2 separate regions of the Homo sapiens genome follow, and region 1 is linked to region 2. The links come from fine-mapping of genetic effects on gene expression. A gene starts in region 2. The other region holds a variant in brackets. All regions are shown on one strand. Distances are between the middles of the regions.

What was found. PIP is the estimated chance that this variant, and not a neighbour inherited with it, causes the effect.
Region 1: its variant is the best candidate, but not a certain one, in a credible set for the expression of FMN2 in tibial nerve (GTEx, PIP 0.79).

The regions. Positions count from the first base shown.
Region 1 is chr1:240,060,249-240,063,159 of GRCh38, reverse strand. No RefSeq gene overlaps it. Among named protein-coding and RNA genes, the nearest start is that of FMN2, 30 kb to the left of the region's middle. The variant A/G (reference allele first, on the strand shown) is at 1,740.
Region 2 is chr1:240,090,309-240,093,219 of GRCh38, reverse strand. It overlaps FMN2 (formin 2), which reads right to left and starts at 1,337. Exons shown (of 18, transcript NM_020066.5): 1 at 1-1,337. The coding sequence starts at 1,110.

The DNA of each region.
Region 1 (2,911 bases), 30 kb after region 2:
CCTGGTGACAGAGCGAGACTCCGTCTCAAAAAAAGAAAAAAAAAAGAAGAAGCGAGGAGACAACATCGGAGCTGAAGGCCACAGCAGCAGACCATCCACATCAGTTTGTGAGGAAAGAATTTATCTTGTTCATGCCCTGATGGTTGACATCAGAAAAAAATAGCCAAGACCATGGACATCTCAATTGGTTCAGCTTCACAATTCTGACGGAAAATTAAATTTGAGCAAACTTTTCACTCAACGTTGCCGAAGCCTTTGTGCCCAGATCAGCTGCAGACAAGAACAGAGCTTTCAACTGAAACGTTAAACAAGTGAAATCAAGATCCTAAAGCATCTCCTCAAAGAATTGTAACAGGAGATGAAACACGGCTTTACCGATATGATCCTGAAGACAAGGCACCATCAAAGCAATGGATATCCAGCAGTGGTAGTGACCCAGTCAAAGCAAAAGCAGGGGCTGGGAGTGGTGGCTCACGCCTATAGTCCCAGCTACTAGGAAGGCCAAGGTGGGAAGATTGCTTGAGCCCAGGAGCTAAAGACCAGCCTGGGCAACGTAATGAGACCCTGTCTCTGTTATATAATTTCTTAAAAAATAAAATAAATAAAAAAGCAAAACCAGTCAAGCACAAAGGTCATGGCAACAGTTTTTTGGGATGCTCCAGGCATTTTGCTTATTGACTTCATGGAGGTCCAAAGAATGATAACATCTGCTTATTATAAGCATGTTTTGAGAAAGTTAGCCAAAGCTTTAGCAGAAAAATTCCCAAGAAAGCTTCACCAGAGAGTCCTTCTCCACCATGACGATGCCAATGCTCACTTCTTCTCATCAAACAAGGGCAATTTTGCCACAGTTTCAATGGGAAATCTTTAGACATCCACCTTCCAGTCCTGATTTGGCTCCCTCTGACTTCTTTATGTTTGCTAATTTTAAAAACATATTTAAAGGGCATTCATTCTTCTTCAGTTAATAATGTAACAAAGATTGCATTGATACGGTTAAACTTCTAGGACCCTTAGTTCTTTAGGGATGGACTAAATGGTTGGTATCATCACTTACAAATGTGTCTTAAACTTGATGAAACATACATTGAGAAATACAATTTATATATTTTTTAAATCTTTTATTTCAATTTTCCATGAACTTTCTGAAGTCCTCTTGTGTTTAGCTTTCTCTGGTTGGTCCTGAGTTGGATGGGGTCAAGGAGAGAGGGAATAGGGAGGGAAGCTGGCAGTCATTGACCATTCAACAGCCCTGAATGTTCTGAGTCAATGCTACAGAGGTTGTGGTTTGGTTGACATCCTGGACTGGTTGCTTCAGAGGTTGTGGGTCAGTTGTCATCCAGGGTCTGGCCATTGTCTGTTTGTTTATTCTGTCTCTCATGAAAACTTTTGTCTCTAAGGCTCTGCTCACCTTTAGACGTTCATTTCAGCATAGCACAGTTCCTCTTTCCCCACCTCCAATCCACACCGCCATTAGAAACTCCAAATATACTGACGGATTTATTTACTGTTTTTTTGTTTGTTTGTTTGTTTTTAATGTGCTGTCTACTTCTTCTCGTCTCTGGGGTTGCCATTAAAGCTGTCTGGAAAACTTTTCTGCTCCCCTCCGCCACCCTTGCATTCCGTGCTAAGTTCTACCCAACTTCAGATTGCAGGTTAGAAGTCACTTCATCCAAGAGCTCATCCGGGACCCTTCAAATTTCTCGAATATGCTCTCAGAGCCCCTAACCTTGGCTTCA[A/G]TGATCACATTTATCACATGTTGTGGCTCAGAAACCAATACCCAACCAATACCCCAAAATATAGCACTTTGACATGTTGAACTGAAGAAGAAGTCTCAAAGTCTATCTGATCTTCCCTGTTCCCCTCTGGCCCCAGGTCTGTCTCTCAGTCCTCTGTCTCTCCCAAAGGATGAGGTTGTTCTCCTTATCCACCTAAAGTCTGGACCTCTCGTCCCTTCCCTGAGTTTTCGTCACTGAACTCATTGCTGGAAGAATGACTGAAGTCTGTCAACACATCTGGACACATTTTCGTCACGAACCATTGTCTGCTCTGCGGGCCCCACAGACAATGTTCCAGACCATTGTATGTGATTCAAGCCCATTAAATTCTCCGAAAAAATCACTTACTACCCCATTAAAATCATCCATACTTCCCCATCTCCCTTTCACCTAAGAAGAAGGGTAAATAAGCATCTATCGCCACTGCATAATGGGGATTTCCCTCTTGTGGCATGCTAATAAATTTGTATACCATTTCTCTCTCTCTGTTTTTTTTTTTTTTTTTTTTTTTTTGAGACAGGGTCTCACTCTATTGCCCAGGCTGGAGTGCAATGGCACAATCACAGTTCACTGTAGCCTTGGCCTCCAGGGCCTGGGTGATCCTCCCACCTCAGCCACTTGAGTAGCTGGGACCACAGGCATGCACCACCATGTCCAGCTAAATTTTTTTTTTTTTTTTTGAGACTGAGTCTCACTCTGTCACCCAGGCTGGAGTGCAGTGGCACGATCTCAGCACACTGCAACCTCTGCTTCCCAGGTTCAAGCAATTCTCCTGCCTTAGCCTCCTGAGTAGCTGGGATTACAGGCACGTGCCACCATGCCCAGCTACTTTTTGTATATTTTGTAAAGACAGGGTTTCGCCATGTTGGTCAGGCTGGTCTCCAACTCCTGACCTCGTGATCCACCTGCCTTGGCCTCCAAAGTGCTGGAATTACAGGCGTGAGCCGCCACACCCAGCCTGCCCAGCTAAATTTTGTAACTTTTTTTTTGTAGAGATGGGGTCTTGCCATGTTGTCCAGGCTGGTATTACAGGCATGAGCCACCACGCCTGGCCTCTCCTATTAATTCGACTTTTGTCAGCTGATTTTCAGTGAACCTTCAGAGGGCAAAAAGGAAGTATTATGGTGGCCTTT
Region 2 (2,911 bases):
CACCTCCGGGGCCCACTCCTCCCCCGGAGAGCCCCGGGGCGCATCCTCAAAAGCATCCTCCTCACCCTCCTCATCCGTGTCCCCAGCCCCTCGCACGGGGGCTCCGGCCGCTTCCTCCCCCGGCCCGGCCTCGGGAAATGGGAAAGCCGTGGAGGAGGGCGAGTCTTTGGCCGCGGGTTGCGCTGCCGGGAGACTGGGCGCCTCGGAGACCGGGAGGCCGCCGGGGGACGGCGGTTGCTGGGGCTCCCGGGGCTCGGCGGCCAGGCTCTCGGGCAGGTCGGAGAGCGCGGACAGCGCCTGCTCGGTGTCCGGACTGCCCGGGGCCTCCCCAGCCCCGCCGCTCGGCCCCAGCAGGAACCGGTCCAGGCCCAGGAAGGCCCCGGGCTGAGGGGAGACGGCAGTGGGGGGCGCTGCAGGCTCCTCGGCGCCCTGGAGCTGCTGCTGCTGCTGCTGTTGCTGGAGCTGGAGCTGGAGCTGCTGCTGCTGCTGCTGCTGCAGGCGGATCGCCTGCTGGATGTCTGAAAGCAAATCCTCTTGCTCCGTAGCCGAATGGAAGCTATAGATGTCCGTGTCCGAGCCCGAGCTGGTCCTTTGTCCATCCTGCGCCCCTGCTGCAGTTTCCACATCCTCGGCGATCGGCCGGCCCCCGACCCTAGCCTCGGCAGGCCCAGGACCCCCTGGACCGGTCACCTCAAAAGGGTCCGCACACTCGGTATCCGACAGGCCGGCCTCGTCCGCCGAGAGGCTGAGGTCTGGAGTCTTGGTGAGCAGGGAGTGAGCGCTGTCCAGCTCCCCGGTCTGCAGGGCCTGGGAATCCAGTACATCTTCGCGGGAGCCGCCGGCGCCTTTCCCCTTGGACAGATTCTTCCTGATCCGCAGGTTGGAAAACACCGAGGCTCTGGAGTCGGACTTGCTCTTCTTCTTGCCCGACTCCCCGCCGCCGCCGCCGCCCCCTCCCCCCTTGCCGTGCTTGCCTAGCGCCTTCTTGCCCCCGCTCCCCTTCTTTGTGGCTTCCACATCCCTGGGCCCCAGCGCATCCTCGGCGCCACCGCCGCCTTCGTGCAAAGCATCACCTGCGCTCCTCTTCAGCTTCCCATCCTGGTTCCCCATGGTGCAATCCCGCTGCTGCGCCGCCGCGCCGCGGGCACTCAGGCCATCCCGGCCCTCCTCGGCCCCAGGTCCGGGCCTAGGGAGTCTCCCGGGAGAGTCAGGCGGCGGCGGGGGGAGCCGCTGGGAGGGGAGGCCGACGCGCGCCCGGCTGGCCCCGCTCGCATCTGCCGCCGCTTTGCATAATGCGCGGCGGCTCCCGTGGCTGCCGTCGCTGCGGCTGCGGCTGCGGCTAGGGGCCGGCGGGGCGCGAACATGCTCAGTGCAGAGCGCGGCGCCCACCAATGGCTGCGCAGAACGCAGCTCGGGCCTGGCTCCCCGCCCGCCGCCGCCGCCCCCTCTGCCCCCGCGCGGCTCCTCGCTGAACCTGGGCGCGAAAAACGTTTCCTCTATCTCGGGGACTTTAATCTCCACCGTGCGAATCGAATGCATTGTCCCCGACCGAAGAGATCGTCAGCTGGAAGATGCACTCTGATCTTCAAAGCTGCTGGACCTGCCAAGAGAAAAGTTAAATAAAAAAGAAGAAATTTTTACACGGAGAAAAACTGAAGCCCAATTCCAGTTTAGAGGTGCCATCGGGTCACAGCCACATACACAACCCCCTGTCTGCCTCTGCATGGCTGTTCAATAAATATTTGTTGAATGAATGGATTGTTCTGTTTCTTGAATAATTGATCATCTAATTGAACACTGTTAATGTGCTTGAGCATATGGTTTAGGAGAGGTTACTACACATGGTGCTGCTTTTATGTTTCACACACAGACCCTGCTTCTCCAGGAGAGGACATTAGCTGTCATTTATAAAATTGGTTTGTGATTTTTTTGTTGTTGTTGACAGAAGGAGAGGTAGGAGAAGTAGAAAATACTGAGATTAGTGTTGATTAAAATGCTAGTCTCCAAATTCTATGTGTTTACCATATAAATTAAACAGCATTTGTATTCAAAAAGGGTGCATATACGATAACTCCCAGGAGGTCAAACTCATCAATATTAAACATGTCACTATTGTGGCTGCCTATAAAAAGGAAAAAGACAGAAAGGAAACACCCTTGGCACAAACACACAAAATCAGATGTTATGCTATAAACTACCACTTTCCCAAGCAAACCCTTCCAGGCAGACTTCGTCCTGTAAAAGTTTCTTAACGTTCTGGCCACAATATGGGGATAAACATTTTTCCTCATTGAATATTTTGTCATTGTTTTCATTATTTATTAAATTTAGTTACCTATTTTTTAAGAATAGTTTTTTTAAAAAAATATGGATATCTAAAGCTTTAAGCAGTAAACTGAGATTAAAGTGGCATTAATAAGTTTTACAAGTATTTAAGTAAAAGTCATTGATAACCACTTTGAAAATATGGAATAGACATCCAACTTATTAATATTTTCAAAATAACCCAGAGGAGGGAGAAAAGCTATATATTATACTGTGCAACTTAAATGTAGCAAGCAAATGTGTAGTCTTCCTTTGCATATTATGAACCAGCCTTTAAAATTCTTTTTTAAAAAAGGTTGGTCTTGTAAGTCTTTGGTTACTAACCTTTTTCAAACTATGTTTTTAAAAATAAATGTAATTTAAGGGCAGTTAGCCAGTTATCCTTAGGTGGCCCTTTCGAGTAAATGCTTTAGAGAAATCAACTTTAATAACTTTGCCAGGGTTATATCCCAGTCTCCAAGCAATTCCGGAGTACATGAAAAGCCTTTGTTTCACCTCTTTCACAAGACTGCTCTCTCCTTTTTTCTAGAATCTAGGCTCCTCAGAGGGCACAATTTGCCTGCAGCTATTAGAATTTTCTGCTTCT